3 linked regions of the Homo sapiens genome follow. The protein of the gene in region 2 purifies or fractionates together with the protein of the main gene of each other region. This does not show direct contact. Each region holds a gene or a part of one and is shown on either strand. Other genes may lie near its edges.

The links. The genes of interacting proteins can lie anywhere in the genome.
Region 1: the proteins of CHST6 (region 2) and LRRC3 purify together in Homo sapiens (affinity purification with mass spectrometry; 2 studies listed by BioGRID and IntAct, with this or other methods). This does not show direct contact.
Region 3: the proteins of CHST6 (region 2) and DNAJC18 purify together in Homo sapiens (affinity purification with mass spectrometry; 2 studies listed by BioGRID and IntAct, with this or other methods). This does not show direct contact.

What each region holds. Positions count from the first base shown.
Region 1 is NC_000021.9:44,451,656-44,458,529, reverse strand, and holds the start of LRRC3 (leucine-rich repeat-containing protein 3 precursor), read right to left. Parts: upstream 3,021-6,874; 5' UTR 2,875-3,020; intron 2,033-2,874; 5' UTR 1,886-2,032; coding exon 1,112-1,885; 3' UTR 1-1,111.
Region 2 is NC_000016.10:75,492,432-75,499,666, forward strand, and holds the start of CHST6 (carbohydrate sulfotransferase 6), read right to left. Parts: upstream 3,011-7,235; 5' UTR 2,509-3,010; intron 1-2,508. UniProt on the Homo sapiens protein: Sulfotransferase that utilizes 3'-phospho-5'-adenylyl sulfate (PAPS) as sulfonate donor to catalyze the transfer of sulfate to position 6 of non-reducing N-acetylglucosamine (GlcNAc) residues of keratan.
Region 3 is NC_000005.10:139,436,506-139,444,480, forward strand, and holds the start of DNAJC18 (dnaJ homolog subfamily C member 18), read right to left. Parts: upstream 3,021-7,975; 5' UTR 2,941-3,020; coding exon 2,901-2,940; intron 1,054-2,900; coding exon 867-1,053; intron 1-866.

The DNA.
Region 1 (6,874 bases), on a different chromosome or scaffold from region 2:
CCAGTACTCCGGGCCTTGGAAAAAGAGCTGTTTTATATCTTAGTGAGTAGAAAAAGCAAGGCACAGGGCCGGGCGCGGTGGCTGACGCCTGTAATCCCAGCACTTTGGGAGGCTGAGGCGGGCGGATCACTTGAGGCCAACAGTTCGAGACCAGCCTGGCCAACATGGTGAAACCCGGTCTCTACTAAAAATACAAAAATTAGCCAGGCGTGGTGGCTCATGCCTGTAATTCCAGCTACTAGGGAGGCTGAGGCAGCAGAAGTGATTGAGCCTGGGAGGCAAAGGTTGCAGTGAGCTGAGATCGCCCTGGGGCAGGGCCTCCCGCATCAGGCACACCCAGAGGGGCAGGAAGCAGGCGGGCCCCCAGGTATGTGGCTGCTGTCTTCCCCTGGGCAAGCTACCCTGGACTTTTCCCAGGTCTCTCTCCATATTGTTCACCCCATTACTGAACTGAAATTTTGGCACTACGGTTACTCAAAACAAACATTTGAGAATAAAAAAGGGTAGGACAGTTTGTTTGAGCTACACATCCCACTTAGCTCTCTAGAAAAACCTGGTCTCTGTTACTTTGCTCTGGAAACAGGGCTTACGTTCCAATGTACTTCGAACACTGGAACAAGGCTCATGTTTACCTACAATGCACTTTGTAAGTAAACAAGGGCAAGTCAGCTCCTCAGCACAGGACTTATCAGCGCCTTCAGCGGGTGAACCTGCACCCAAGCTCCCTCTGGTGAACCCTCTCGCTTGCAGAGCACCCCCTTAGTCCTCTGAGTGCATATCCACAGCCTGCAGGGCCCCGTGTGGGAGAGGCTGGCATGGTGGAAGGAGGCGGAATGTCACGATGGACAGCCCGGGTTGAAGTTCCACTGGGATAATTTCCTGATGGTATCGTCACGGGCAGTCATTCCGTTCCTCTAAGCTTCAGGTTCCTCATCCGTCACACGGATGTGTGGCAAAACCACCCAGCCTGGAGGTGCTGCTGTGCCTGAGTGCAACAGTGGGGAGCACACATGGCTGTGACACCTGCCTCAGGGAAGAGCAAAAGCAGCATCAGTCACCACCTACTACAAAAGTGACAGCAGCCACCGGCGGGGGTCTGCCGGAACAGGCGCTAGGGCCCCGGGCCGATGGGGTCCTTGGAGGCGGGGGCGCTGGGCAGAGACTTCAGGTACTCCAGGTGCCTCCGGGCATCCTCCTGGTTGTGGCGCACATAGTACACGACGTAGGCGATCACCATGGCGAACCAGCCGAACATGGTGACCAGCATGGCCACGTCTGTGGTCCTGTGGGGGACGCTGCAGAGGCTGGCACCCGCATCCAGAGCCTGAACCAGAGGCTTCCCCACAAACTCCTCCTGCACTGAGGTGTGGCAGGCGATCTCGTCCACAGAGTCGGGGTCCAGCTTCAGCTCCCACAGGGCCTCCTGCAGGGCGCACTCGCAGTGCAGGGGGTTGTGGGACAGGCGTATCTTGGCGCTGAGTTTGCCCAGGGCGTCCTTGGGGATCCTCTGGATGCGGTTGTAAGACAGGTCCAGCAGCCGCAGGCCCCCGGCCAGGCCCGCGAAGGTGGCGGAGCCGATGGCCTCGATGGCGTTGTGAGACAGATCCAGCTCCCTGAGCCGGTGCAGGTGCTGGAAGGCCCCGTCCGGGAGGTGGGAGATCTTGTTGGCATCGAGCTTCAGGAGCACGGTGTTGGCCGGGATGTCCTCGGGGACCTCCTGAAGGCCCCGCAAGCTGCAGAAGACAGCCACAGCCCCTGCGTGGTCAGGGCACCGGCAGGGCTGTGGGCAGGCGGCGCCCAGGTGCAGGCAGAAGAGGAGGAAGAGACAAGACTCCCGGGTGGAGACCAGCAGGAGCGAGGGGCGAGGTGGGCGCACGGTGCCCATCCTGACCTGACCTGGGGACGGGGACACGCGAGCCTCTGCTAGGGCCTGGGGATGGAGCTGGTTTCCGCAGGCAAGGCCTTATCCAACCAGACATGAAACCGCCATCCTGCCCCGCTGGGAGAAGCAGTGCAGTCCACTCTGGCAGCTCTGAAAGGGAAGACGCAGGAGGGAGCGGAGAGGGAGGGAGGGTGGTCAGCACTGCCGGCTGCGGTCACCTGGGAAACGCGTCCACTGGTGGGGAGGGTGTTGAGGGCCCACTGAAGGGTCTGGGGTGGGGAGCACGCCTCCTTAAACAGCTCTGCCTGTAACTTACTTCTGGAGACTCCCAATGCGCCCGGGAGGAGCGTCCCACAAGTGCAGGGAGCTGGCACTGCCAGGGGGCTCCGCATGGCCCAGTGGGTGGTCACTGCGGCCACCCCTGGCCACCTACAGCACCGCTGGGGACCAAAGGCCGGGCGGCGGAGTGGCGGCGGCTTGGACCACCCAGCCCCTCCCTCCTCAGGGTGGACGCCAGGAGGACGGTGACGGCTGCAGCTTCTCCCGAACCTGGAGCGCGGGTCAAGCTGGGCACGTGGCCGGGCACCAGCGGGCGCTCGCGCGCCAGGGGCTACTCCAGCAGCCAACGCCTGGCTGACTCCGACAACCCCTAAAAACTGTCATAACCCAGCAAGCCCTTCCCTGCCAGCCCTAAAGGAGCCGCGGCTCGCACCGGGCACAGAACCGCGCCTTTTCTTTCAACTGCCTGAAGAAGGAAACCGAGAAAACAGAGAAGCCAAGCCCTGTGCGCGCGGCCCGCGCTGGGCGTGGACGGCGGGGCCGCGCGCGGAGCCGGCCGGGAGAGGCTCGGACCCCCAGGACCTCCAGCCTTTAGACCCTCCGGCCCTAGGACCCCCGGAACCTGGGACCCCCGAGACCCCAGCACTCGCGGCGGGGGGATGGTCATGGGGTGGGTGGGAATCCACGCTCCCAGGGCTGGGCGGGGGCTTTACCTGCGCGGCGGCGGCCGGAGGCTGCTCTGCGCGCCGCTCCCGGGCCTCTCGGAGCCCGCCAGACCCAGCTCCACGCCTGGCGCGGCGGCCACCCCGCTGCCCCTGCGACCGCGCCCGCGACCACTAGCTGGGGAGGCCGCGACTCCGGCCTGCGCGGGCGAGGGGCGGGGTGGGGCGGGGCCTGGAGGGGGCGGGGCGAAAGGCGGAGACAGGCTGTGTCGATTCCCCGCGGGGGCGGGGAAGGGGCGGGGCATGTAAGGAGACCGGAACGGGATTTGTGGTTAGGCGGGGGCGGGGCTTGAGGGCGGGTTCTGCGGCAGGGCGGGGCCTGGAAGAGATGGGGGAGGGGCATGGGAGGGGCATGGGAGGGGCCGGTGGTGCGGCTTTAGATGGAGCTGGTACTAAGACCCAGGTCGCAGGGGCTGTGGGCGGGTTGTGGGAGTAATTGTGGCATGCTGGGGGCGTGGTTGTGGGGCTGAGGACGAGGTGGTGGGGGCTGAGGGCGTGGTTATGGGTGGGGGCGGGGTCTGCGCGCCGGGAGGGGCTGTGGGTCCAGCCCCTGCCCCTCACTCTGGGCAAATCCCCTCTTCCCTCTGGCATCAGGACTTCTGGGGCTTGAAGACCCTGGGTCTGCGGGAAGCCCCTGCTGAGCGTCCCTCGCCTACCCCGTGGCCAGTGGGTGAGTAGGGCTAGATCTCCGCCCATCTAGGTCCCCTTCTGCTCCAGCTCCAGCGTCTGACATCCCAAGGAAGGAACGCAGGGTGGGGGCATTTGAGCCGGACCTGAGCCATCCTCATGGTTTTCAAAAAGTAGCCTTATTGTGGTGTAATTGACAGACGGTAAGCCACATATTTCAATTTGGTACGTTTTAACACTCGGATACTCCTGTGAAACCATCACCACAATCAGCATAGTGAACACCCCGGGTTCCCTCTTGGTCATCTCTCCCTGCCCTCCCTCATCCCCAGGCAAGCACTGATCTGCATTCTGTCACTACTGATTACTTTGCATTTCCTATGATTTGCACAAATGGAATCATATAATATGTACTTTTTGTGTAGCTTCTTTCACTCAGCACAATTATTTTTGAGATTTGCCTGCGTCATTTGGTTTGTCAATGCGTATTTCTTTTACAGCTGCATGGTACTCCAGTGTATGAATGTACCACAGTTTGTGTCCATTCACCTGCTGGTGGGCATTTGGGTTGTTTCTGGTGTTGGCTCTTACAGATAAAGCTGATCCGAACATTGTGCACAAGTCTTTGGATGAATGCTTTTCTTTCTCTTGAATAGATGTCTAGGAGTGGAGTGGCTGGATGCCACGGTAGCCATATGTGAAACTTTTTAAGAAACTGCCAAAGCGATTGTATGGTTTTACATTCCACATCCTCCCCAGCACTTGGTATGGTTTGTCTTTTTAATTTCAAATACTCTAATAGGTGTGTGGTGATAGATGGAACTGTGGTTTTAATTTGCGTTTCCCTGTTGGCCAATGATGTTGAGCATCATTTCATCTGTTTATTCTCCATCTCCTGTAGTAAGCGTTGAGTTCAAATCTTTTACTCACTTTTAATTGGGTTGTTTATTTTCTTATTATTGAGTTTGGGAGTTTGTTGCATATTCTGGATACAAGTCCTTTATCAGATATGTGATCTGTAAATGCTTTCTCCAAGCCTTTGGATTGTGTGTTCATTCTCTTAACAGTTTTTCAAAGAGCAGAATTTTTTAATTTTGAGGAAATCCAATTTATGTTTTTCTTTTATGGATCCTGCTTTTGGTGTCATATATAAGAAATCTTTGCCTCACCCAAAGTCACAAGGGTTTTAGAGTTTTAAAGGTTTGCATTTGGGTCTATTACCTATTTTAAGTTTATTTGGGTTTATAGTATGAGATATGATTCAATGTTTATTTTTTGTGTATGTGGATAATCAGTTTTTTCCAGACTGTTGAAAAGACTATCCTTTCTCTTGTTTGCTGAGAGTCTTTTTAATCAGGAATGAAAGTTGGATTTTGTTTTTTCTGCATCTATTGAGAATCTTTTTGCGTGATGATCTATTAATATGATAGAGTATAATGATTGATTTTAAAGTGTTAAATCAATCTTGTGTTCTTGGGATAAAGCCCACGTGGTCATGATGTATTATCATTTTTATATGTGGTTGAATTATTTAATGGATATACAACTGCTGAGTTTATTTTATTCTTGACTGAATGTATGTAGTTTGTATCGCTCAAGAAATTGCCCATCGCATATAAGTTGTTGAATTTATTAGCATAAAGTTGTTCATAATATTCCTTTATCCTTTCAACATCTGTGAAGTATGAGGTGATGTCATCTTTCTCATTTCTGATACTGGCAATTGTGGCTTTTTTTTTAACTGAACAATCAGATAGCAGTTTATCAATTGTATTGATCTTCTCAAAGAAATAGCTTTTTGGTTTCGTTGATGCACTTTTTTTTCATTGACTTCCACTCTTTATTCTTTCTTTTGCTTGTTTTTTTGTTTGTTTGTTTTTGTTTTTGTTTTTGTTTTTGAGACAGAGTCTTGCCTTGTTGCCCAAGCTGGAGTTCAGTGGGGGCAATCTCGGCTCACTGCAAACTCCATCTTCCGGGTTCAAGTGATTCTCCTGCCTCAGCCTCCTGAGTAGCTGGGATTACAGGCATGTGCCACCATGCCCAGCTAATTTTTGTATATTTTTAGTAGAGATGGGGTTTCACCATGTTGACCAGGCTTGTCTCGAACTCCTGACCTCAGGTTATCCACCCACCTCGGCCTCCCAAAGTGCTGGGATTACAGGCATGAACCACTGCACCCAGCCTCTTTTGCTTACATTGGGTTTGACTTTCTCTTCTTTTTTAGGTCTCTTAAGGTGGAAGCTGGGGTCACTGATCTGTACAAGCATTCAGTACTATAAATTTCCCTCTAAGTCCACCTTTAACTGCATCCCAGAAATTTTGATATGTTGTATTTTTGTTTTCATTAAGTTGAAAATAATTTATAATTTTCCCTTTGATTTCCTTTTTGACCCATGAGTTTAGAGCTATGCTATTTCACTTCCACATATCTGTGCATTTTCCAGAGCTCTTTCTGCTGTTGATCATTACTTTAAAGCCATTGTTGTCAGAGGACATATTCTATGTTTCGGATCCTTTTAAATTTATTGAGACTCTTTCATGGCCCCGATTATGGTTGGCGGTTGTTGCATGCGCACTTGAATTTGTGTACTGTTGCTCCACGAGGTGTCCTATAAACGGCAATGACTGTGTTATTTGAGTAGCCCATATTATCATCCACTTTCTGTCTACTTGCTCTGCTAATTATTGAGAGACCAGCCTGGGCAACAAAGTGAGACACCATCTCTACAAAAAATCAAAAACTCACCCATCCATGGCAGCGCATGCCTGCAATCCTAGCTACTTGGGAGGCTGAGGCAGGAGGATTTCTTGAGCCCAGGAAGTCAAGGCTGCAGTGAGCCGTGATTGTGCCATTGCATTTGAGCCTGGGTGGCAGAGCAAGACCCTGTCTCAAACAAACAAATTCTTGATAGCGGTGTTGAAACCTCTGACTGTAATTGCAGATTTGTCTGTAATTTTTCCTTGCAGCTCTATCAGCTTTTGCTTCATGTGTTTTGAGACTCTGTGCTCACATCGTGCATGCTCCTGACTGGTTGACCCCTGTGTCATCATGAAATGACCCTCTTTATCCCTAGACTCTGACTTGAAATTGACTCCTGCTTTCCTTTGATTAGTTTAGCATGGGATATCTTCTTTTACCTTGTTACTTTTTACCTAGTGTGTCTTATACTTAAATTAGCTTCATTGGAGATTTCCATAGGATCAAAGTATCTGCTTTGACATATTTATTAACCTAAAAAAGTAATAACAGCTTTTCAGTGCAGAAACCACCTTATCTATGTGACAAAGCTCGGGCCATCAGTGGCAAGGTAGATTGGCATCACGTACCTTTGATACAACAACCTGAGAAGGACGTCACTTCTGC
Region 2 (7,235 bases):
CATTACAGAGATAATCTGGAATGTTCCCTGGTTTATTAACCATTTATTTTAATTACCTTATTTTTTAAAAGTAAATCATACTTCCAAATCTATGACAGAAAAAGGAAGAGACTATTTTATAGGAAAATAACTCAGGGCCGGGCGCGGTGGCTCACGCCTGTAATCCCAGCACTCTGGGAGGCCAAGACAGGCAGATCACCTTAGGTCAGGAGTTGGAGACCAGCCTGGCCAAACATGGTGAAACCCTGTCTTTACTAAATACACAAAAAGTAGCCAGGTGTGGTGGCACGTGCTTGTAATCCTAGCTACCCAGGAGGCTGAGGCAGGAGAATCACTGGAGCCAGGAGTCCGAAGCTGCAGTGAGCTGAGATCACGCCACTGCACTCCAGTCTGGGCGACAGAGAGAGACTCCATCTCAAACAAAAACAAAAACAAAAACCAAAACCAAAAAACACATAGTCAAATGCAACATGTGGACCTTGTGTGGATTCTGATTTGAAAAAAACATCTGCCAGGAGATACCCTAGAGGTAATCAGATATATTTCAATATTGACTAATAGGTGATAGTGAGAAATTATTATTAATACTATTATCACTACCCAGAACAATCTTGTTCATGTATTTCTGGACCCATTTCCCCGCCCAAGACACTAGAAGCAGAATGGTGTCTGTCTCATTAAAGACAGTAGGTATAGAGCACTGAGGTTAAGAGTGTGAATCCCACTTGACCATTTACTGAGCGATCTTGTGCAAGTTACTTCCTTCTGTGCCTGCTTGGTTAAAAAAAAATCTGGAAGGTCAGGTGCGGTGGCTCACACCTGTAATCCCAGCACTTTGCGAGGCTGAGGAGGGCGGATCACGAGGTCAGGAGTTTGAGACCAGCCTGACCAACATAGTGAAACCCCATCTTTACTAAAAATACAAAAATTAGCCGGGCGTGGTGGCGGGTGCCTGTAATCCCAGCTACTCAGGAATTTGAGGCAGGAGAATCGCTTGAACCTGGGATGCGGAGAGGTTGCAGTGAGCCGAGATTATGTCACTTTCACTGCACTCCAGCCTCGGTGACAGAGCGAGACTCCGTATCAAAAAAAAAAAAAAAAATCTGTAAAGTGGGGGAAACAATATAACCCAACTCATGGGCTTGATTGAAAGAGTGAGTGAGTGGATATTTGTAAAGCAGAACAAAGTCTGGCGCATAGTGCACTTATGAGTATTTGCTTAGCAATCTTCCTTCCTGGGCCACACTTATATTCTATGAATCCAAGGGAAAGTCTTTGAATGAGGAAAACCCAAGGACAATGGCTCTACCAGATTCAGGTGCCCCAGTGCCCCAGCAACAGAATGTGGCAGGCACAGACAGGGTCCCCACAAGGGCAAACAAAACAGAAGACGCTGGAAAGTCATGGCTAGAGGCCTGGCTTGTGTTTTTTCTGAGATGGAGTCTCGCTGTTGTCCAGACTGGAGTGAAGTACCGCAATCTCAGCTCACTGCAACCTCCGCCTCCTGGGTTCAAGTGATTCTTCTGCCTCAGCCTCCCAAGTAGCTGGGATTACAGGCACTCACCACCATGCCCAGCTTATTTTTGTATTTTTAGTAGAGATGGGGTTTCACCATGTTGGCCAGGCTGGTCTTGAACTCCTGACCTCAGGTGATCCACCTGCCTCGGCCTCCCAAAGTGCTGGGATTACAGGCGTGAACCACTGCGACTGGCCTTAGAAGCTTGGCTTCTGAAGCCGGATTGGGTTCAAATCCTGTCTCTACTACCAGTGAGGGGTGTGACTTAGAGCAAGTCACTCTCTGGCTCTCTATACTCCAGTTGACTCTGTTTGTAGAACAAAGCCAGAAAAGTTCCGGCCTCTCAGGCTGGAGAGGAGCCCAGCCCCAGCTCCCGGAGCAGCATAGCACCCTCAGAGGCCCTGGTACTTGGCCTACTCGCTTGTGGGTTTAAGTCAGCCAACTCCTTTCTGCTCTTCAGGCCTCAGTTTTCCCATCCTCAAAAATGGGAAACTTGACTGCCTTGCCTCTGTGAAAAAGGGAGGAGAAAGGAAAGTCAACATTTGCTAGGCACCTGTCCTGAGGCCCAGAGGGCCTGTCCTGAAGCCCAAGATGAAGCCGTCAGAAGCAGTGACGCAGGACTCCAATTCCCCTGGGTCTGGTTCCAAATCAACCCGCCAAGCTACCGTCTCTCAATAATTCTATGGAAAAAGCCCTTGGAGAGCTTTTGAAAGTCATGTCCTTTGAAACTCAAGTATCGAGACAAAAGGGGTTCTCCCCTCGCAGTGAGGATTCTCCTGCGCAGCCGAAGCCCCAGCAAGACACTTCCAAACCGGCGCCAACAGCGGCGATGCCCTTTCCACGTTGCTGATGGAAAAGCCACTCCCAGCTCTTCCCGCCACCCCAGGTCCCCGGTGCAGGACAGAGGAGCGTCCCCAGCTGTGCCACCAGCCCGGCCCCCAGCCGACCCGAGTGTGGGGACATCCCCCGCGGAGAATGAAGAACCAACGTACCCCAAAGCTTGGCGGCTCTGCCCGAGCTGCAGCGGCACGGTGGGGGACGCCTCTCTCCCTGGACTCAGCAAAGGCTCCCAAACGTCGTCTCTTCCAAATTCCACCGCACAGCCAGCTCTTTCTCTTCACTGGGAGGGTCCGCAGGGGCTGACTTGCTCCTTAAGGTCCCAAGACTATTAAGCGACACCCGGTGAGGCCGGGAAAGGGGCTCTAAGAGGCATGGACGAGAGTTGGCGGTGACCAAGCCACTGGAAGCTCCTGGAGACTCGAGGTAGAACGAATGTGGGAACAGGGCAGGAGTCCCAGAATGGGATGTTGAGGCTGGGGGTGTCCTGGGGCTACCACAGGGAAGGACCCGGCGCAGAGCTCCCTCTGGAACCCGGCACTGCGGCCCGCGCCCTCTACTCCCCGCGCGCCGGCCGGCAACCCTCGGCGCTGCCCGGTGCAGCCCGCCCGAGCGCACACAATGAGGCGCTTTCAGACGTGGCTGCGGTCCCGAGGTGGCCAGCGGGAGCTAGCGCCGTGGGGGAAGGAAGGAGCCGGTTGGCCCACCCCCGACCGAGGGGCCACGCCTCGGGGGAGGGGCGCCGGCCGAGGGCGGGGCAGGAGGGCCCAGGTGGGCTGGGGCTCTGAGAGGCTCAACTTTTAGCCCAGAATGTCAAAGGGCGCTGGCAGAGTCACCTCTCATCTGACTACAGAGGAACGTTGTACCCCACCCCACCCCAAATCCCCAGAGAAGGGGGGCTCCTGGGAGGACAAAGGCCCTAGTGAAGGAAGTCGAATCTTAATCTTGACCCTCCTCACTCTCGGGGGCATCCTTGCGGCGAGGTGACTTGGAATCCAAACCCTTCCCAAGGCCACGGCACCTGGATGACACATGGACCCGGTGCAGTGTCCCAACTGGGAAGAGCGGAGAGACCAGGTGGCCTTAGGAGCTGGGTCCGCAGCTTTTCCCCTCCTCCTGCGCATTCCCTGCCCTAGCCTAGGCCCAGAGGCGCAGGTTCATAGCAGGTCCAGATAAAGACATGATACGTTTCAATAAATAAGATATTTCCGGCCAGGGCTGGGCGCGGTGGCTCACGCCTGTAATCCCAGCACTTTGGGAGGCCGAGGCGGGCGGATCACGAGGTCAGGAGATCGAAATCATCCTGGCTAACACAGTGAAACCCCGTCTCTACTAAAAATACAAAAAAATTAGCCAGGCCTGGTGGCGGGCACCTGTAGTCCCAGCTACTCGGGAGGCTGAGGCAGGAGAATGGCGTGAACCCGGGAGGCGGAGCTTGCAGTGAGCCGAGATCGCACCACTGCACTCCAGCCTGGGCGACAAAGCGAGACTCCCTCGCAAAAAAAAAAAAAAAAAATCCGGCCAGGCGCGGTGTCTCACGCCTGTAATCCCAGCACTTTGGGGGGCCGTAGTGGGTGGATCACGAGGTCAGGAGTTCGAGACCAGCCTGGCCAACAGGGTGAAACCCCGTCTCTACTAAAAATACAAAAATTAGCCGGGCGTGGTGGCAGGCACCTGTAATCCTAGCTACTCAGGAGGCTAAGGCAGGAGAACTGCTTGAGCCCAGGAAGCGGAGGTTGCAGTGAGCTGAGATTGCACCACTGCACTCCAGCCTGGGCGACAGAGCGAAACTGTTTCAAAAAAAAAAAAAAAAAAAATCCCCTTTACAAATAACAGGGCAGAGCCCAGGCACCTGAAAAGGATGAAGCATTTCTAGGTCTTGTCAAATTAGTGATGGGATCTTAATCAAGAACTCCCTGCTGCTGGGAGAAGAAATAAGCAGTCCTTCCTGGTTGTGGTTTGGCAAGATGAATTAAGATTCTTGACAATGGTCGTAAGCTTTTCGGATTGGTAATTCCTTTCTAGGAGCTATCTTAAGGAAATAAACCAGAAACAAGGATTTATGTACAGGGTTCATATAAGTGTTGTTCATGATTTTGATACTGATTTTTTTTTCAGATGGAGTCTCACTTTTGTAGCCCAGGCTGGAGTGCAATGGCAGGATCTAGGCTCACTGCAACCTCCGCCTCTCGAGTTCAAGTGATTCTCTTGCCTCAGCCTCCTGAATAGCTGGGATTACAGGTGCCCACCACCACGCCAGGCTAATTTTTGTACTTTTAGTAGAGACAGGGTTTCACCATGTTGTCCAGGCTGGTCTCGAACTCCTGAGCTCAGATGTGATCTGCCCGCCTCTGTCTCCCAAAGTGCTCGGATTACAGGCATGAGCCACCGTGCCCGGCCTGTTCATGATTTTTAAAAAGTTAGAAATAGTGTATGGGATAGAAAGATGTGTGCCAGAAGGCCAACCATAACTCTGGGTAGGGGATTGGCCGGCAATCATTATTTTCCTTAGGATCATGTAATTTACATTTCCTTAATCAGTATTTAGAAGTTATCTGGCCAGAAAGCTCCAAAACCTCTTTACAAAGCATGAATAAGGAGAGGGGGCAAGGATGTGGAGGATAAGGTAAGAGGGACGCAAAGAGAGAGAATTGCTTTAATAAGCTTCAAGATGGGCACTCAGTGGGGCATTAGACACCTCACCTGCTTTGGCAGAAACTGGACTAATCATTTGGAAGAATTAGAGATTTCTCTCCCACAAAACAAATTCAATAATTATCTCAAATATGACTTATCTATGGCTTCAGCTCAGTTGATAAAATCCTGTGTATTTCTTACCTTTCTTCCTCCTGCAACTATGCTGTGTGGTTCAGTTTCAGAAACTACCAATAAATGATCCGTAAATAATTTGATATTCACCAGACACAGTTGTAATTTTCCAACCCGCAGCTCCCATATGCCATGTGGATTCCACTAAAAACTAATATACTTGGGGTTGGACCAGGAAACTTTTGCCAAAGAGCTAACAAAAGCTCCAAGGTCTTTGGGCAGAGCCGTGGCAAAGCAAGGCTACTGGTGAGTAACTCGGAGAAGTGTGCTCAACTTCAGCCCTCCCTATTCTTCCTCCCTCCAAAGCCTTGCTTCAAAAATAGCTAATACAACCTTCCATGTTGAACATTTTAATTAGAAAGCTACAGAACATAATGGATTCTTTATACAAGTTTTGCATTCAAATAATTTAATAAAATGCAAACCAAAGTTTATACGTATCTTTAGCCATCTTCCCATGTTTCATTAAATTCTGGGGATTTAAACCACAAGCAATTTTTCATTTCAGTCTCAAGAGACGGGGCACACTGGCCCATGCCTATATTCCTGGCACTTTGTGGGGCTGAGACAGGAGGATTTCCTGAGGTTGGGAGTTCAAGACCAGCCTGGGCAACATAGTGAAAACCCCATCTATAAAAATAAATAAATCTCAAGAAAAAAATTTAGGCATCTAAAATAGCCAGAATATTAAAAAAAGACAAGGGGGACAGTGTTAGAGAATTCCTCTGCTTGAATACTTCAAAATAGCTTTGTTTCCAAAACTGTTTTTAGTCAGCCTAAAGGAAACGGATGCTGGAGATGAAAAATGATCTCCAAGGTAAACTGAGGCACACACTGAGGGGTGTGTTTCTGGGTGGGCATGAAGCATGGATCACCGGAGCCATGTCCTTCCAGGGGCAACGACCTGCTTGGGATCAGGAAGCAGCTCCATGTGTTCTTGGAGGAGACTGCACGCATCCTCAGGAGGTGAATCGGCTGAACAAGCCATCTTCCGTGTGCAGAGGCCCCTTCCAGCCATCTCTGCTCCTGCAGACACTTGCTTAGCCACGAGGATAATCCACTGGACTGCTTGGTATTCTGCTAGTGGCCAGGCTGGACTGGCCTGCCCAGGCCAGCATCCTCTTTACACCCTCACTGCTTCTTGTGTCCTTCCCAAAGCTGCCCGCCCCACTCTGATGGGCACCCTTTTCCTTAGTCAAGGGAAACGCCAGCCGCTGGGCTTCCCGCTAGCCTTCCAAATAAACTTGTGGTTGTCAGGCAGCGGGAGCCAATCCCAACACCAACCCCTGTCGCCCCTGTCCTTTGCAGGAAGGGGGAGGGCTGTCAAGGAGGAGGAGGGCCAAGTGCCCAGGCTGTTGGGTGAGGGCCAGAAAGAACCTGTTGTGACAATGCTTTCTTCCCCCAGTGCTGCTGAGGGGGCTGAGAATGAAACAGCCCCTCTGACTTCAGCCTGCCATCCAGGGGCACAGACAGAGGGAAAAACCGGGCAAAGAGCCAGCCACAGTCGGGCAGGGATCCAGGGCTGCTCAGCTGAGCTGATGACAGATGACTGACTGTTGGGCTGGGGCAGGTGGACGGTCCAAGTGTCCTTCAGCGGCCCTCCCTGATTGCCTGTGCTAATGCGGCCCTTGCCCTTGGGCCCTGCCCCTCCAGGTCTCCAGTTAAAGGCCTCAGCTCTGGAAATCAAAGCTGTGAATGGGAAATGGAGAAGCCCAGGGGTGCAAAGTGCTAGTGATTGGCATGTTTGTCACAAGAGAGCCCTGAAAAGAGTAAGAGTGGCTCACAACAGAAGGAAGAAATGCACAGTGTGTTCCTCAGTTCAACAGAGGAAAAGTCTCTGCTTGACCAGAGATGGGACTCTTTCCAAGATGTCTGAACTGACTGCAATTTTCTCCTGAAATTCAACGCTAAGGCAAAGAAGAAAAACCCAAAAAGCTAATTATAGCCTCCAGGAACTCTCAGACCTTTCCACAAACTAGTCCCTGACAATTCTGCAGGAGCTCTGAAGATACGGAACTGTGTAGAGCAAAACTGGAAAGAACCGTTGTCTCTG
Region 3 (7,975 bases), on a different chromosome or scaffold from region 2:
TCCCTCTTTCTTTTTTTTTTTTTTTTTTTTTTTTGAGAGACAGGGTCTTGCTCTGCTGTGCGATTATGACTCACTGTAGCTTCAACCTACTGGGTTCAAGCAATCCTCCTGCCTCAGCCTCTCAAGTAGCTGGGACTACAGGTTGGTGCCATCATACCAAGCTAATTTTTGTATATATATATTTTTTGGAAGAGAGGGGGTTTCACTGTATTGTCCAGGCTGTCTAGTTCCTTAAGGTAGATTAGGTTACTGATTTGGAGTCTTTTTTAAAAAAATAAGCATTTAGAGCTATAAATTTCCTTCTAAGCACTGTTTTAGCTGCATCCTATACATTTTAGTACGTCGTGTTTTCATTTTCACTCATCTCAAAGCATTTTCTAGCTTTCCTAGTGATTTATTCTGTGACTTGCTTGCTTATTAGGAGCTTGTAGTTTAATTTCCACATATTTGTGAATTTCTCAAATTTCCCTTTGTTTTTGATTTCAGAGAACATACACTGTATGATTTCAATCTTTTTAAATTTATTGAGGCTTGTTTTATGACCTAAGATATGGTCTATCCTGGAGAATATTCTATGTATCCTTAAGAAGAAAATCGTTCTGTTGTTGTTGAAAGAATGTCCTGTAGATGTGTGTTGTGTCTAGTCGGTTTCTGCTGCCTCTCTTAAAGTAGAAGCAGGGTAGTCAGTTCATGTTATACCCTAATATTCCACTTCTATTCAGTCTTCCCTCTGAGGTCAAGAAGCTAGTATGCCTCAATTATCATCATCATCATCATTATCATCAGTCAATACTTACATAGCACATCCAGGCACTCTTCTAAGCACTTTCCATAAAATCACTCATTTAATCTCACCACATGCTCACCTTTGTACCCCAAGCAGCTGTTCCTCACTATACGTGGAGTTCCCCTCACCCTGCCGGGTCTGAGTCCACTCATTCTCAGACTTCTTTTCCTTTTGTGCCTTCATGCAGTTACAGCAGCCACAGGGGTCATGACTCTCAGGAGGTGTGTCTTCTGGGTATTTGTTTCTTCTAACTGCGTCAATGTAAGCTGCAAACAACAGCCCCTCCATTAGGTCTCCATCTGACCCTGAAAATCAACTTTGCAACCTGCCTTTCCTCTCTGGGAGGCTGCTCGTAAGCATGAGAAGGTAAGCATGATGGCCAGGGCTAGAGGCGTCATGCTGACTTTTAAGCACTCATACAAAGCTGAATAAACATGTTTCTCTGTGGTCCGTGGTCAGAAGAGACACTGCTCGTAAAATAGTATTTTTTGTTGCAGTGCCTCCCACCCCTAAAATTTAAAGTAGAGAGGAGTTCAATTCTTTTACACTAACAATTATAGAACTAATATATACCAAGGAACTTGGCTAGAAGATCAAGAGGGCGGATGGGTAAGATCTACTCCTGACCACAAAGAGGTTAGTTTAATGCAAGCTTGTCCAACCCGCGGCCCACAGGTGGCATGTGGCCCAGCACGGCTTTGAGCTCAATACAAATTCGTAAACTTTCTTAGAACATTATGAGGGCCGGGCGCGGTGGCTCACGCCTGTAATCCCAGCACTTTGGGAGGCCAAGGCGGGCGGATCACGAGGTCAGGAGATCGAGACCATCCTGGCTAACACCGTGAAACTCCGTCTCTACTAAAAATACAACAAATTAGCCGGGCGTGGTGGCAGGCGCCTGTAGTCCCAGCTACTCGGGAGGCTGAGGCAGGAGAATGGCGTGAACCCGGGAGGCGGAGGTTGCAGTGAGCCGAGATCGCGCTACTGCACTCCAGCCTGGGTGATAGAGCGAGACTCCGTCTCAAAAAAAAAAAAAAGAACATTATGAGATTTTTTTTTGCAATTTTTTTAAAGTTCATTAGCTGTCATCAGTTAGTTATTTAGTCGTCAGTTAGTGTATTTTATGTGTGGCCCAAGACAATTCTTCTTCCAATGTGGTCCAGGGAAGCCAAAAGATTGGATACCCCTGGTTTAAAGGGAGAAGATTCAATAACAACACCTGCAGAATGTAAAGAGGGTCATAAGCAATACAGTCAAAAGGGGCAGAGCACTCATGTCTTCTCTGGAGGACCTGAGAAAGGCTTTAACAACATCTTTCTTCCGCTTAACATCCCTCAGCTACCTCCACCCACTGCTCCTGGACAGTCTTCCTCTAAGTCGGCCTGGCTAACTCCGACGCATCCTTCTTGTCACCATTTGTAACACTTTCTGCAAGAAACCTCCCTTGACAGCCAGTCTGCGTTAGGTACCTTGTAAGTGTGCTCTCCAAATCCCTGACCTTGCTGTGTAGCCCAGGCGTTTTGTATTATTCGCCCGTTTTGTAATTGGCTGTTCAGTCGTCAAACTCTCTCAGTGGGCTGCGAGTTTTGTGAGCTAAGGGACCCATGTCAGTCAAATCCCCACTGCAGAATCAGCATTAGGCGGGGCACACAATAGGTATTGGATCAATATTTTTTGCCTGACTGTAGGGTGGAAAAGGCTGGTCCTGATGCCGGCTGGAGCGACATGATCAAACAGGGACTGAAGGTCAGGTGGCCCAGTTAGGCGAAAGATAAGGGCCAGGTTAGCAAGCTGCGGAGAGACCGCAGCACCCCACGGGCCCTCCAGTCACCTTGGCATGGGCGGGGCCTGACAGCTGCGGGCCCTGGGCGGGGCACGGGCGGGGGCGGGGCTGGGGGCCGGAGGCAACAAGTCGTCACCGGTGACTCTGGGCTCGCGGTCGGTCCCCAGCTTCCCTACCCCATCCGCAACCCTACTCAGGCTCAGCATCTTTTCACAGGCCTCTATCCATCACCTCAGACCCAGGATCTCAGCCCTTGTGCGTCTTCAGGATCCTCATCCCTGATCTCTCCCGAAGGCCGCCCTATCCCTCCTTCAGGCGGGGACCTAGTACCTTCCGTCCAGCGCTCCCCGCTGCCCAGAGTCGCCGCCATATCGGTTCCCAATCAGCAGGTCCGCCGAGCCTCCCCCGTGCCCGAGGCTGAAAGAGAAGGGGGCGCGGAGCGCGGGGCACGCTGGTCATTGTAGTCCAGTCCATATGAGCTCCCGGGGCACTGGACTACAACTCCCGGCAGGCTCTGCGCCAGAGGCCGTGGGAGACGCAGAGAAGTGCTCGACCTTCGTCAGGAGATCTGTGGAAGAGTGCTGCTGCCAGCTGCCAGCTGCCTGCAGCACGGCTCTTGGCTTTTCCTCATTTGTAGAGTTGGGATAGTGGCTTCGGCCCTGCCTAACCCTAGGGACATCCAAGGAGGGGCGACTGAAGTCCTGCCTGGAAAGGGCTTCGCAAACTATAGGCTAGAGGGTGACAGTATGACTATTATGCTCCTCAGGGATGTCTTTTTGAAGCATACGCTAATGCCTGTTCTGTGCAGTCAGTGGTAGGCCCTGGAGATTCAGAGATGGGTTTTGGGGATGCGGAACCCAGCCTTTGGAAGCTTGAGTCAGGAAAATAGAAAAGTGATGTAGATTTATGGGGTTGGAGGGCAATCTCAGTATGTCCCTACTGCCCCAGCTCCTCAGGCACTGGACATCAGAGGGTATCGGGGTGGAGAAAGAAGACATGGAAAGGTATTGGGGCCGGCATGAAGAGCCTCCATCTTTGCTGTTCCTGTCCTTCCTCCAACCCATCCTACTCCAACACCCCTCTGACACTTTTCTCCTCTCTTCCAGTCTAGTTATCTCTTTAGCCCATTCGTTTCTTTTCTGAAGGACCAGACATTGAGATTAGTAAAAAGGAAATGAGGAAATAAATATTCTTGCTGTTCCTCATCCAGGTATGGATGGAACCTAGCAAAGAATAAAAGCAACACTTTCTTCATAGGTGGATGGCTACAGTTCATCCCCAAACAAAAAATTACCCAGAATTAACTGAGGTCTTACCCAAGAAGACCAAATCAATCATGATATCAACTAGCACCTACTTAGGCAGTTGGGGAGAGATGTATATTCCTGGACATAAACTTGGAAGGGTAAAAGCACCAAAGGGCATGCAGTTCCAGCCCTTGCCTACAGTCATGGCCCTGGCATCACTGACATTATGCCCACTTAAGAACTCAGAGAACGGCCGGGCGCGGTGGCTTATGCCTGTAATCCCAACACTTTGGGAGGCCGCGGCAGGCGGATCGCGAGGTCAGGAGATCGAGACCATTCTGACCAACATGGTGAAACCCCGTCTCTACCAAAAATACAAAAATTAGCTGGGCATGGTGGCGTGTGCCTGTAGTCCCAGCTGCTCGGGAGGGAGGCTGAGGCAGGAGAATCGCTTGAACCCAGGGGGCGGAGGTTGTAGTGAGCCAAGATCGCGTCACTGCACTCCAGCCTGGGTGACAGAGTGAGACTCTGTCTCAGAAAAAAAACAAAAAACAAAACTCAGATAACAAGGCCTTTCAAGTGGAAAAAGCACTGGTCTAGAAGTTGTATAGGTGTTATATTAATAGCTGGGGTTTTGCCACAAATCATTGCGTGATCCTGAACATCTCCTTTTTCCTTCTTCTTTGGCCTCAGTCTCATCACCTATAAAACGAGAAGGTTGGATTCAATTAGTAGTTTTGTTTGTTTGCTTTTTGAGACAGAGTCTTACTCTGTCGCCAGGCTGGAGTGTAGTGGCATAATCTCGGCTCACTGCAACCTCTGACTCCCTGGTTCAAGCGATTCTCCTGCATCAGCCTCCCGAGTAGCCGGGACTACAGTCGCACGCCACCATGCCCAGCTAATTTTTGTATTTTTGGTAGAGACGGGATTTCACTATGTTGGCCAAGATGGCCTCAATCTCCTGACCTTGTGATCTGCCCGCCTCAGCCTCCCAAAGTGGTGTGATTACAGGCGTGAGCCACCGCACCCGGCCTCAATTAGCGGTTTTTAAATTGAGGAATCCTTAAGGCTTAATGTGCAGATGTCTCTGGAATCTTCTATTGAGGAGTGGGAGCGGGGAGGAAGGCATAGCAGGGAAGGCACTAGCACCTCACCCTTCTTCAATCAAAGAAGCTCTGTTTTTTTCTGTTTTGTATTTTGTGGTCTACTAAAGGAAAGAAAACCTACATGTTTGAAAACTACCAAACCAGTTGACCACTAAAGGCTTGTGTCATTTGTAATATCAGTTTCTCCTGGAGCACTTAAAGTCAGTGTTCTTCCCTCATCCCCACCCCCATAAGCACTGAGAAAGTAACAGTTGTCTAGAAATTTGGTCATTTTCACTTAATTTAGGAGGAGGAATTTAGCATAGTGGTTAAAAAATCTGCATAGGATTGCCGTAGGATATAGTAAGATAATGCTTGCAAAGCTTTTAGCACCTCATCTGGCATGTAGTATGTGTTTAATAAATGCTGACCACTGTTATAGACTGGCTCAGAGGAAGAGAAACCATTTTTTATAGTTTGACATTGTAAATTAGGAGCAAAGGGGTATATATGGGGTATATCATAAGGTCCTGGATATAACTAACTGGACCCCATTCCTGTCTATCTGGCAATCATTACCTGCAAATAAGACAAGAAGCAAAACACTACCAAAAAGGGCTGGGAAGTTGCTTGTCCATGTACCCTAACCCCTGAATCCAGCCACTAAAACTGGTGATTTTCTCCCTTTCAGAAACAGAAGAAGATGGCAAAAGTGAACTAGTATGAGAAGGTTTTGGGTCATCCTAAATCCAATGAATTATGGATGTCCTTAAACTTGAGAGGCAAAGGAGGCCCCAGAACCATGAGATGAGTCAAAAGCTCAGCTCTAGGACACTGGACCTATGACCAGCTAACTAATCCACGGAGCAGTGTACTCACAGAAAGCTGGATCCTGAAGGTCCTTCTTGTGCTCTGCAGCTGAGGGAACTGATCAGGGACATCCATCAGGTGGTTGAATATAAAAAGGAAGTTCTTCTGGTTTGGGGAGGCTAGACCGCCTGCTCTAGAAGATGGACAGCTGAGGGTGGGATAGACCTTGGAGTCCAGGGGCACAGGGAAAAGGTCTGGAGGTACTACCTGGAGATGTTAGAATACCATGAAGTCAGAGGTGTTTGGCTGAGAGTGGGCTGTTAGAGCACTGTAGGGGTTAACTGGATTGAGAGGAGCAACTATGAATTATGAGACTATCTAGGAGCAGAGCCTAGGTTCAAGAGTATTGGACAAGATTTGGGAAGCTGGGGCCTCTTCCCAAATCTTAGCTGCTGTCTGGTAGCTAAGCATCCTCTCTCCTCATGCTCTGAAACCTTACATCCCCTTCTTTTCCAGACTTCTTTTCATTTACTTCTAGAACAGTAACAAAAATGGTTTAGCATTATGACCTTCTCAAATATTGCCAAGTATCCACATGTATTCTTCAGTTTGTTTACACCTCAACTAACACTTCTGGATGAATTTTTTTTTTATGATCGCATCACTTGGACTAACGCGAAACTCTAAAGCTCAACATTAAGAATACTTCTGTGACAGTTTTTGCTTAAACTCATCAACTAGTCAGCAAAAATAATCCTCACTGTAAAGTTCAATTTCTGTGTTTTGTAAAAGAGGAAGCTGTGGGCCCAAAGAGTATAGGATGGAGATGCCAGTCGAAAAGGACCCACAGGAAAAGTGAGAGGGTAACTGGGAAGGAGATAAGGGAAGAGAAATTGGGGTCTCCAAGGCAGTTCTCAAAGAGAAGGAGGTAGATGTGGAAAGAAGTTTGACGAAGAGAGAAAGGAGGACATCCACAAACCCAGGAAAAGACTGGTGGACAGAATCACACAGTGTTTTCCAGCACATTCAAATTTAATAGAGTAGTACTAGCTGGGCTTGGGGAAATTGTGTGCCAGAACTAGGTCAAGGGGGCCTGCAATGATCCTTCATCTGCTAAACCATTTTACCTTAGGGCCAGCCTCAGATTTCTCTCAGTTTTCTCCACTTACTTTATTTTTTTGAGACAGGGTCTTATTCTGTTACACGGGCTGGAGTGCAGTGGCGCTATCACAACTCACTGTAGCCTTGATCTCTTGGGCTCAAGCGATCCTCCCACCTCAGCCTCCTGAGTAGCTGGGACCACAGGCACATGCCACTATGCCCACTATGCCTGGCTTTTTTTTTGTTTGTTTTTAAGATATGGGATCTCACTATATTACCCAGGCTGGTCTGGAACTCCTGGGTTCAAGCAATCCTGCCCCCGGGGACTTCCCAAGTGTTGGGATTAAGGCGCCTCCACTTACTTACATGTTGAACTGTAATGGATTCTTGCTGGTGATACTGAGGTCTGTCCTGTGCCCTATATGATTGAGATGCTGCCCCATCCAGCCCTAGAAGAAAGAAGCTGAGTAAATGATCCTCCTGTCCCACTGGGCCTGTGTGTCTGTGCTGGTTTATTGGTTGCCCTCCCATAGGATGAGGGAAAAAATGAGAGAAGGACATTCTGCAGCTAGCCCCCAATCCCCGCCACCTGTTCCTGTTTAAGGACCACGTAGTCCTGTGTGAGAAAAGGGAGGAAGTCATCTTGTAAACAATCATCATCCTGTTGTCTAGACATGAAGGAAGAGATAGGGTTTCAAGGAAGCTGCAAGGGCTGCAGAAGGCTGCACTCAGATTTCCTGTCAGAGGTGGCATCTTGGATTTGCATAAATAGTAGGCTCCTCCAGGAGAAACCTCTCTATTAGAGTTTGCTCCAGAGCAGAATTCAGCATTTAATTCATCCTCAACCCCTTCCCAAAGGATAGAGTTACTTAGCAACAGGAAAATCCACATGGCTTATGTGGTACTGCGGTGTCAGTGTCAGGGTAAAAGCCTTTCAATCTCAAAGATTATTAATACCAGTTGTCTCCCTCTTCCCCCACATATAAATACCTTATGACTAACAGCTTATATACGCAGGTCATTGCCCAGAGTCAGAGGAAAATGTGTGGTTTTATAATGAAGATGACAGCTGAGTTACTTAGAATGAAGCCCCATGTCCTTGACCTGATTAGTCCAGTATGATGAGCAGCTGTACTCAGTGCCCATGGCAGGCAGAATAACA